Homo sapiens: one gene and its partner. The protein of the gene in region 1 purifies or fractionates together with the protein of each later gene. This does not show direct contact. Each region holds a gene or a part of one and is shown on either strand. Other genes may lie near its edges.

The links. Proteins that work in one complex are often made in the same cells at the same time.
Region 2: the proteins of EPM2A (region 1) and PPP6R2 purify together in Homo sapiens (affinity purification with mass spectrometry, with the first as the bait; one large-scale study listed by BioGRID). This does not show direct contact.

What each region holds. Positions count from the first base shown.
Region 1 is NC_000006.12:145,732,721-145,736,997, reverse strand, and holds the start of EPM2A (laforin), read left to right. Parts: upstream 1-1,477; 5' UTR 1,478-1,499; coding exon 1,500-1,800; intron 1,801-2,077; exon of another isoform or gene 2,078-2,129; intron 2,130-4,277. UniProt on the Homo sapiens protein: Plays an important role in preventing glycogen hyperphosphorylation and the formation of insoluble aggregates, via its activity as glycogen phosphatase, and by promoting the ubiquitination of proteins involved in glycogen metabolism via its interaction with the E3 ubiquitin ligase NHLRC1/malin.
Region 2 is NC_000022.11:50,341,943-50,346,126, reverse strand, and holds the start of PPP6R2 (serine/threonine-protein phosphatase 6 regulatory subunit 2), read right to left. Parts: upstream 2,801-4,184; 5' UTR 2,577-2,800; intron 1-2,576. UniProt on the Homo sapiens protein: Regulatory subunit of protein phosphatase 6 (PP6). May function as a scaffolding PP6 subunit. Involved in the PP6-mediated dephosphorylation of NFKBIE opposing its degradation in response to TNF-alpha.

The sequences.
Region 1 (4,277 bases):
TCGCCAAATGACTCTTATTTTCCTAAACTTACTCTAAGAATATCTTTTAACAGCAATTTGAATAAACCGACTCACATGCCACTGTGATTTAATGTGTGATTTGCTGCCGAATCAGCTGTGTTTGGCCAGCCCTTCTGTCTTCACATTTTTCATAGTGTTTATCCTTAAGCTTAGCAACCAACCAAACTTCGAGTGGAATATCAACATTCAAGAGTAAAATGTATTATTAGTTTTCTAATTGTTCCACAAGAGATTGAGTTTGTGTAGTTTACATTTTTGCACTTTCTGTTTTACTTATATCCTCAACGCATGAAATTTTGGCCTGTTCCCCTTTACTATTCACAAACTTCCAAACACTGGTAAAAATGCCTTTGTGTGTCTTTAATTCACGTAACAGATTTGTGTTATGTTAAATGTTAGTGAATATATAAACCTAAGAATACAAGGATAATTTTGTTAAAGAATCAAAAAGTATCAGGACATTCGTTTGTCTTATGGCAGAGACAAATTGAAGTTCCCCACCAAGATATACGTATTTTGGATTTGGGCCAGACAGCTAAAAAACCTGTTTCAACTTAAAACCCAAAAAGGTTTTAAGTTGAAAAAATAATGCTGACTTTTGCTGAAAGTAAATTTTAAACAAAGGTTTTTTTTTTTAATTTACTCCATTAAAAATGCATACATTTGGACAGAGCGAGACTCTGTCTCAAAAAAAAAAAAAAAAGCATACATTTGTAGTCACAGAATTAGTTTTTGTTTTGACCTTGAAAAGGACTTGAAAGTATTTACTCCAAACTTACTTTACACATACTAAAAATATAGTTTTTGAAAAAAGAAAGTTGATGTGGCTTTTCAGACAAGGGAATGGTAGGTAATGTTTTGCATCAGCTCCGGGTCTTGGGTGATCTCCACCAATCAGAGATCCTTCAGAGCTCGTAGGGTCTAGAAAGATCATTATTTTACACCCTCATTTTACAGACAAAGAACCTGAGACCTGCTAGAGTAAGTGACTTGGTTAAGATAGGGAGCGCTCCAGAGACCAGGTCCAAGATCTTCCCCCGTTTCACAATTAGAAGGCGGCTGTCTAGAGGTCATTCCCTTCCTTATGATCCTCATAAAGTTAATTTCCAGTCTCTTGGAGAGAGAACTGGACGATCGCCTGGCTTAGAAGTTTTCCTCCCTCCCCGAACCCCGTTTTCTCTTCCATTTCTTCCGGTCGCGTGTCCCCAGCGCCCACAGGTGGAAATCAACCGCCCGCGGGGTTGCGGGGCACAAAGAGGCAGCTAGCGGCTCCGCTGACCCCTTCCCGCCGGCCTGGACGAAGTCTGGGCTCGGGAGCCGCGTGATGCATCCCAAAGAAGGCGCAGAACAGCACGTGTTCTCCCCGGTGCCCGGGGCTCCCACACCACCGCCCAATCGCTGCGGCCGCCTAGTGCTCGGGCCGCGCCTGCCGGCCGCGGGGACTCCGGGCCCGGGTATTCGCGCCGCCGCCGCCCGCCATGCGCTTCCGCTTTGGGGTGGTGGTGCCACCCGCCGTGGCCGGCGCCCGGCCGGAGCTGCTGGTGGTGGGGTCGCGGCCCGAGCTGGGGCGTTGGGAGCCGCGCGGTGCCGTCCGCCTGAGGCCGGCCGGCACCGCGGCGGGCGACGGGGCCCTGGCCCTGCAGGAGCCGGGCCTGTGGCTCGGGGAGGTGGAGCTGGCGGCCGAGGAGGCGGCGCAGGACGGGGCGGAGCCGGGCCGCGTGGACACGTTCTGGTACAAGTTCCTGAAGCGGGAGCCGGGAGGAGAGCTCTCCTGGGAAGGTATTGCCAGCAGACGCCTGCCCCCGGCGCAGAGCGGGAGCTCCGGCCCGCACCCCCAACCGGGGCCTCGGCCTCGGGCAGGCCCCGCAGGCCCCGGCGGCGCGCGTCCCGGGCTTTTTGCCCGCGTCCCTGCGCACTCCCCGGGCGACCTGGGCTGACCCTGCTCTGCCGGCCACGCTGTCGCCGCCAGCCGCGCCTCCGGCTTCCTACTGATTCCCTAGACCCGTATAGCGCTCCCGGCCGCCTTCCCGCCCACTCTGTTGCCTGCCCCTCTGACCTGGTTTCCGCACATCCAGTCCTCAGCTTCTTTCCAACCGCGCCTGCGTCACGGGCCAGTGCCCTTCGTCTCCCGCCCGGGGCTCCCTTCGCCCTCCGAGTGCCCCTCGACCTCCGAGTCCCCCCCTTCGCGGGTCCCTTGGCTGCCCGGCCGCGCGCCGCTGATGGCTTCAACAGCCCAACTCCGCCTTGGTTGGGTTTTGTGTCCTCATTTTCCTGCTCTAATTCACTAAAAAAAACCCAAAACGATCCAACCAACGAAACTAGCGTTTTCGCTAATCCTAGACAGCAATGTGCTACTTAGATTTTTTTCATAGATATTGAGAATGAACTAATGGAAAAACGTTGAATATTTCCCTTTTTGGATTTTTTTTTCTTTTTTAATCCCAGATATATGACAATTGAGACATGACCTGATTTCTTAAAATACTAAAACAATACATGCTGGTTGTAAAATAATAATAAAGAAATGTACATAGTGAAAACTTACAGTGTTTCCTCCACACATCTTAAGCACACTGCTTGTACACATTTATGTATGTGATATATGCATATACTTTTTTTTTTTACAAAAATTGTATAGTAATTCTGAATTTTTGCTTTTCTTGCCTAACAATATGTTAGGGACATCTTTCACTGTCACTACACGTAGATATGTATTTTACATGTAGATGTATATTTTAAATGGCAACAAATTATTCTGCATCTACCAATGTGCATTTAGGTTCTTTTCAGTTTTCCTCTGTCGTAAACAGTAGTGGCTTAATTGAAATTCCTTTTACAGATATCTTTGAACATTCGGGAGTGTTTCTGCAGAGTGGATTCAAAGAAGTGAAATTATTAGGTCAAAATGCAGTCATTTTTTTTAACACTTCATTAAAGACTGCTAAATTATGCCCTAAAAGGGTGATTATCTAATGTCGGCTCCCGCCAACAGTGTCTGAATTGAGACAGCTCCTTTCTTTAAAGGAAATGTGCAAGGTTGTAGACTGGAGTGGGTGTGACTCAATAGTTGAAGTCAATGAAATGAATGTCTCTTTAGAAGTTTATATGAAAAAAAAAATGGGCCATTTAGCCTGTAATGATGTAGAAACAAAGAATCAGTAAAGAAGATTAGAGTGGAATGTGTTTATATATTATCCTTGTTCTCCTTCTCTACCTCACTGGGCTTATGGTCTGGTAGCATTTATTGGTCTGTTATTTTACCATGACAGAATTGAAAGATACCCTCTTCAGTTTATCCTTTCTTTACAGAGTATTACTATTTTTCATAGTATTGTAGAATTATTTTTTAAAATAATATCTGATAATTGTAATAAAAATGGAAATGGTGTGAAACAAAGATCTTCCCTTTCCCTAGTTATTTAGCTTTTCTGATAGTCCTCCCTATGCCGTTAATAGTTTGCTTATGTTGCTATTTCTTAAGGTACCACAAACTTTTGTTTTTAATTTTTCTAATAGTTACCATATAAGTTATATATAATTTTAAAAGTTAAAATTAGGCAATAGATATTGACACCTACTGGATGCTCATAAAATTAACCATCACACTTGTTATGAAATATGAGGAATTTAGCTCAAGTTCACTCTCTGTCTTCCCTGCTGATTTTTTTTTACTATTATTTTCAGTTTTTTTGATAAATATTTTTCTTTACTATCCAAGCAGGAATTATTTTCAGTTTTGTATTAAAAATTGACTGTTGACTTTCTAGGAAGTTACTCCTATAAGAGAGGATAAGAAAAATATTACAATTTCTTCCTGTCTCACTTTGGTTTATTATGACTTTTACATTATCAAGTTTTATATAATTTATATTCTATTTTCTAATTGTTACAGTGCCTTCTTGTTTAAGGTAAATAGACTGATTCTAAACATCGTAAATTAACAGAGAGCTTTATGAGAAGCAGGGTAGCCAAGTGTTTAAGAGCAAGGATTCTGGAGCCAGATTGCCTGGGCTCACCAACCAGTGTGGGATTTGAGGCGTGTCACCTCAGCTCACAATGAAAGGACCAAGCTGCCTAATAAATGAACTGTATTTTGTAGAATAGGATATATATTAAGAACTTACAAGAGGACATATGGTAAATGTTAAATAAGGGCTAGTTATTATTTTTTACTATGATTATTGGGAAACCACGTTGTGCAATTAGACTCGTAAACAAGGAAATAAAATTTTGTGACATGAAAACTGTACCACTGC
Region 2 (4,184 bases), on another chromosome or scaffold:
GGGCACTGACTGGGGGGCAACTGACTGGGGGAACTGACTGGAGGGGGCACTGACTGGGTGGGTCACTGACTGGAGGGTTCACTGACTGGGGGGAACTGACTAGAGGATGCACTGACTGGGGGGAACTGACTGGAGGGGGGCACTGACTGGGGGGGAACTGACTGGAGGGGGCACTGACTGGGTGGGTCACTGACTGGAGGGTTCACTGACTGGGGGGAACTGACTAGAGGATGCACTGACTGGGGGGAACTGACTGGAGGGGGGCACTGACTGGGGGGGAACTGACTGGAGGGGGCACTGACTTGGGGGGCACTGACTGGGGGGAAACTGACTGGAGGGGGCACTGACTGGGGGGGGGAACTGACCGGGGGGGGGGAACTGACTGGAGGGGGCACTGACTAGGGGGGCACTGATGGGGGGAACTGACTGGAGGGGGCACTGACTGGAGGGAAACTGACTGGGGGGAAACTGACTGGGGGGGAACTGACTGGAGGGGGCACTGACTGGGGGGAAACTGACTGGAGGGGGCACTGACTGGAGGGGGCACTGACTGGGGGGCACTGACTGGAGGGAAACTGACTGGGGGAAAACTGACTGGGGGGAACTGACTGGAGGGGGCACTGACTGGGGGGAAACTGACTGGAGGGGGCACTGACTGGAGGGGGCACTGACTGGGGGGCACTGACTGGAGGGAAACTGACTGGGGGGAAACTGACTGGGGGGAACTGACTGGAGGGGGCACTGACTGGGGGAACTGACTAGAGGGTGTACTGACTGGGGGGGGGAACTGACTGGAGGGGGCACTGACTGGGGGGGGAACTGACTGGAGGGGGCACTGACTGGGGGAAACTGACTGGAGGAGGCACTGACTGGGGGGGAACTGACTGGAGGGGGCACTGACTGGGGGAACTGACTGGAGGGGGCACTGACTTGGGGGGGAACTGACTGGAGGGGGCACTGACTGGGGGGAATTGACTGGAGGGGGCACTGACTGGGGGGCACTGACTGGGGGGAAACTGACTGGGGGGGCACTGACTGGGGGGAACTGACTGGAGGGGGCACTGACTGGGGGAAACTGACTGGAGGAGGCACTGACTGGGGGAAACTGACTGGAGGAGGCACTGACTGGGGGAAACTGACTGGAGGAGGCACTGACTGGGGGGAAACTGACTAGAGGGGGCACTGACTGGGGGGGAACTGACTAGAGGGGGCACTGACTGGGGGGGAACTGACTAGAGGGGGCACTGACTGGGGGGGAACTGACTAGAGGGGGCACTGACTGGGGGGGAACTGACTAGAGGGGGCACTGACTGGGGGGGGAACTGACTGGAGGGGGCACTGACTGGGGGAAACTGACTGGAGGAGGCACTGACTGGGGGAAACTGACTGGAGGAGGCACTGACTGGGGGGGAACTGACTGGAGGGGGCACTGACTAGGGGGAATTGACTGGAGGGGGCACTGACTGGGGGGCACTGACTGGGGGGAAACTGACTGGGGGGGCACTGACTGGGGGGAACTGACTGGAGGGGGCACTGACTGGGGGAAACTGACTGGAGGAGGCACTGACTGGGGGGAATTGACTGGAGGGGGCACTGACTGGGGGGAATTGACTGGAGGGGGCACTGACTGGGGGGCACTGACTGGGGGGAAACTGACTGGGGGGGCACTGACTGGGGGGGAACTGACTGGAGGGGGCACTGACTGGGGGAACTGACTGAAGGGGGCACTGACTGGGGGGGGAACTGACTGGAGGGGGCACTGACTGGGGGGAATTGACTGGAGGGGGCACTGACTGGGGGGCACTGACTGGGGGGCACTGACTGGGGGGAAACTGACTGGGGGGGCACTGACTGGGGGGAACTGACTGGAGGGGGCACTGACTGGGGGAAACTGACTGGAGGAGGCACTGACTGGGGGAAACTGACTGGAGGAGGCACTGACTGGGGGAAACTGACTGGAGGAGGCACTGACTGGGGGGAAACTGACTAGAGGGGGCACTGACTGGGGGGGAACTGACTAGAGGGGGCACTGACTGGGGGGGAACTGACTAGAGGGGGCACTGACTGGGGGGGGAACTGACTGGAGGGGGCACTGACTGGGGGAAACTGACTGGAGGAGGCACTGACTGGGGGAAACTGACTGGAGGAGGCACTGACTGGGGGGGAACTGACTGGAGGGGGCACTGACTGGGGGGAAACTGACTGGAGGGGGCACTGACTGGGGGGGAACTGACTGGAGGGGGCACTGACTGGGGGGCACTGACTGGGGGGAAACTGACTGGGGGGAAACTGACTGGGGGGGAACTGACTGGGGGGGAACTGACTGGAGGGGGCACTGACTGGGGGAACTGACTAGAGGGTGCACTAACTGGGGGGGAACTGACTGGAGGGGGCACTGACTGACTTGGGGGGGGCACTGACTCCGGGGGCACCGACTGGGGGGAACTGACTGGAGGGGGAACTGACTGACTGGGGGATAACTATCTGGAGGGGGCACTGACTGACTCGGGGAGAAGTGACTTGGGGGGCACTGGCAGACTGGGGGCCGGGTCTGAGCGGCGGGCGGCCGCACTCACCTGCCCTGCGGGCCGGGCGTCGCGGCAGCTCTTCGGAGGCCCGTGTGGAGGCCCGAGCGGAGGCCAGGGCGCTGGTGGAGGCAAAGCCCGGGCGGCCTCGGGCGGGCCGCACACACATGGGCCCGGCCGAGGGCGCAGCGCCTACGGACACCGGCACGGCCGGCCGGCGGCTCGAGACCGACTCGGGGCCGCGGGCGGCACTCCGATCGCTCCAAAATGGCGGCGGCGGCGCACGGGCACGCGCTCCGGGGGCGGGGTCTCCGCTTGGGGCGCGCACGCTCGCGGCCGGGGGCGGGGCCGCGCGGGTGGGCGGGGCCGGGACCTGGGCCGGCTCTCCGGGCCCCCTGGAGTGGGGCACTCGGTGAAACCCGCGTGGGAGCACGAGGGCTTGGGTGTGCTGACTGCTGCCTTGGAGTGGGTGGGGTAAGAGTGCGTCTTTCCCCTTTTACGTTTCCCTTTGAGGTATTGGCTAAAGTTTTGTGCAAGCATAGTTAATTTTGTTGTAGCCACAAAACAATCCTCGCGTGGCCCGACGCAGCATTTGAGAGACACACACCTGGGGCAGGGGTTTCCCCCGTGGCCCAGGAAAGGGCCTGTTCTCCCGGGCCTCCCTCCTGCCACAGGCCCCTCCCAGAGGCCGCGGGGCGTGGACGCCCCGAGCAGCAGGAGCGGGCTCAGCCCCGGGCGCCAGGCCTGGCCCCTCCCCGTCCCGCGTCCTGCCTGGACCCGGAGTGCCTGAGCCGCCTCCAGACAGTTTTCTCCAGGTGCGCTACGGGTTCTTGCACGGCGTTTTGCAAATTAAGTATGTGCCTATTTAACAAGTGCTGGAATTGTTTAATTCCATCAAAATAATTTCAAAAATGATTACTATTATTTCAGATGTTAGAGCGAGCCGTGGGTAAATGTTGGGAAAACATGGAGCACTTAAGGGATCTCTAAACGTTTTTTCCAGTTGTCAGTGTATTGCCCAGGATTCACCGATGCTCTCTGCGAAAGCGTATCTGGGCGGCTCAAATATTCGGTATTTCTCTTTTGCCAGCTGGCGCTGTTAGGCTTTGTCGGTAGAGGGCGCCAGAGACGTTGCAGGAGAAAAGGGCTTGGCCCTGCGGCTGGCGGCCCCGGGCTTCCCCGACGCCTGTCCCCTGCCCTGGTCAGCAGCACCCTCCTCGCCGGTTTTATAGCAGATGCCTCTGGCGAGCCTTTCCCCAGCAAAAGCTTTTCCCCTAGCATCCTAAGGGGCAGATTTCTGGCAGGTTCCGTTGAGGGAACTTCCAGGAAGTGGGGGTGAAAAAGCCTCAGCCTCACAACCTAGAGAAGAGACACCCTGCGTTCAGCAGGCTATGCCCTTCTCCTGCCCTCACCATGGTCTCCTTTGCAGGAGCGGGAGGTGCTGCTGAGTTGAGCTACGGAATGGGGACTGGGGCCAGGGGCACCAGATGCAGGAGATGCTCCTGCTGCCGTGAGCACGTGCAACTCTGCCTGATCTTGATACCCCTCCTGTGCTCAGCCAGTGCAACTGGGGTGAGCAGGAGCCCCTCTCCTCCTCTTTTTTTTTTTTGAGACGGAGTCTCGCTCTGTCGCCCAGGCTGGAGTGCAGTGGCGCGATCT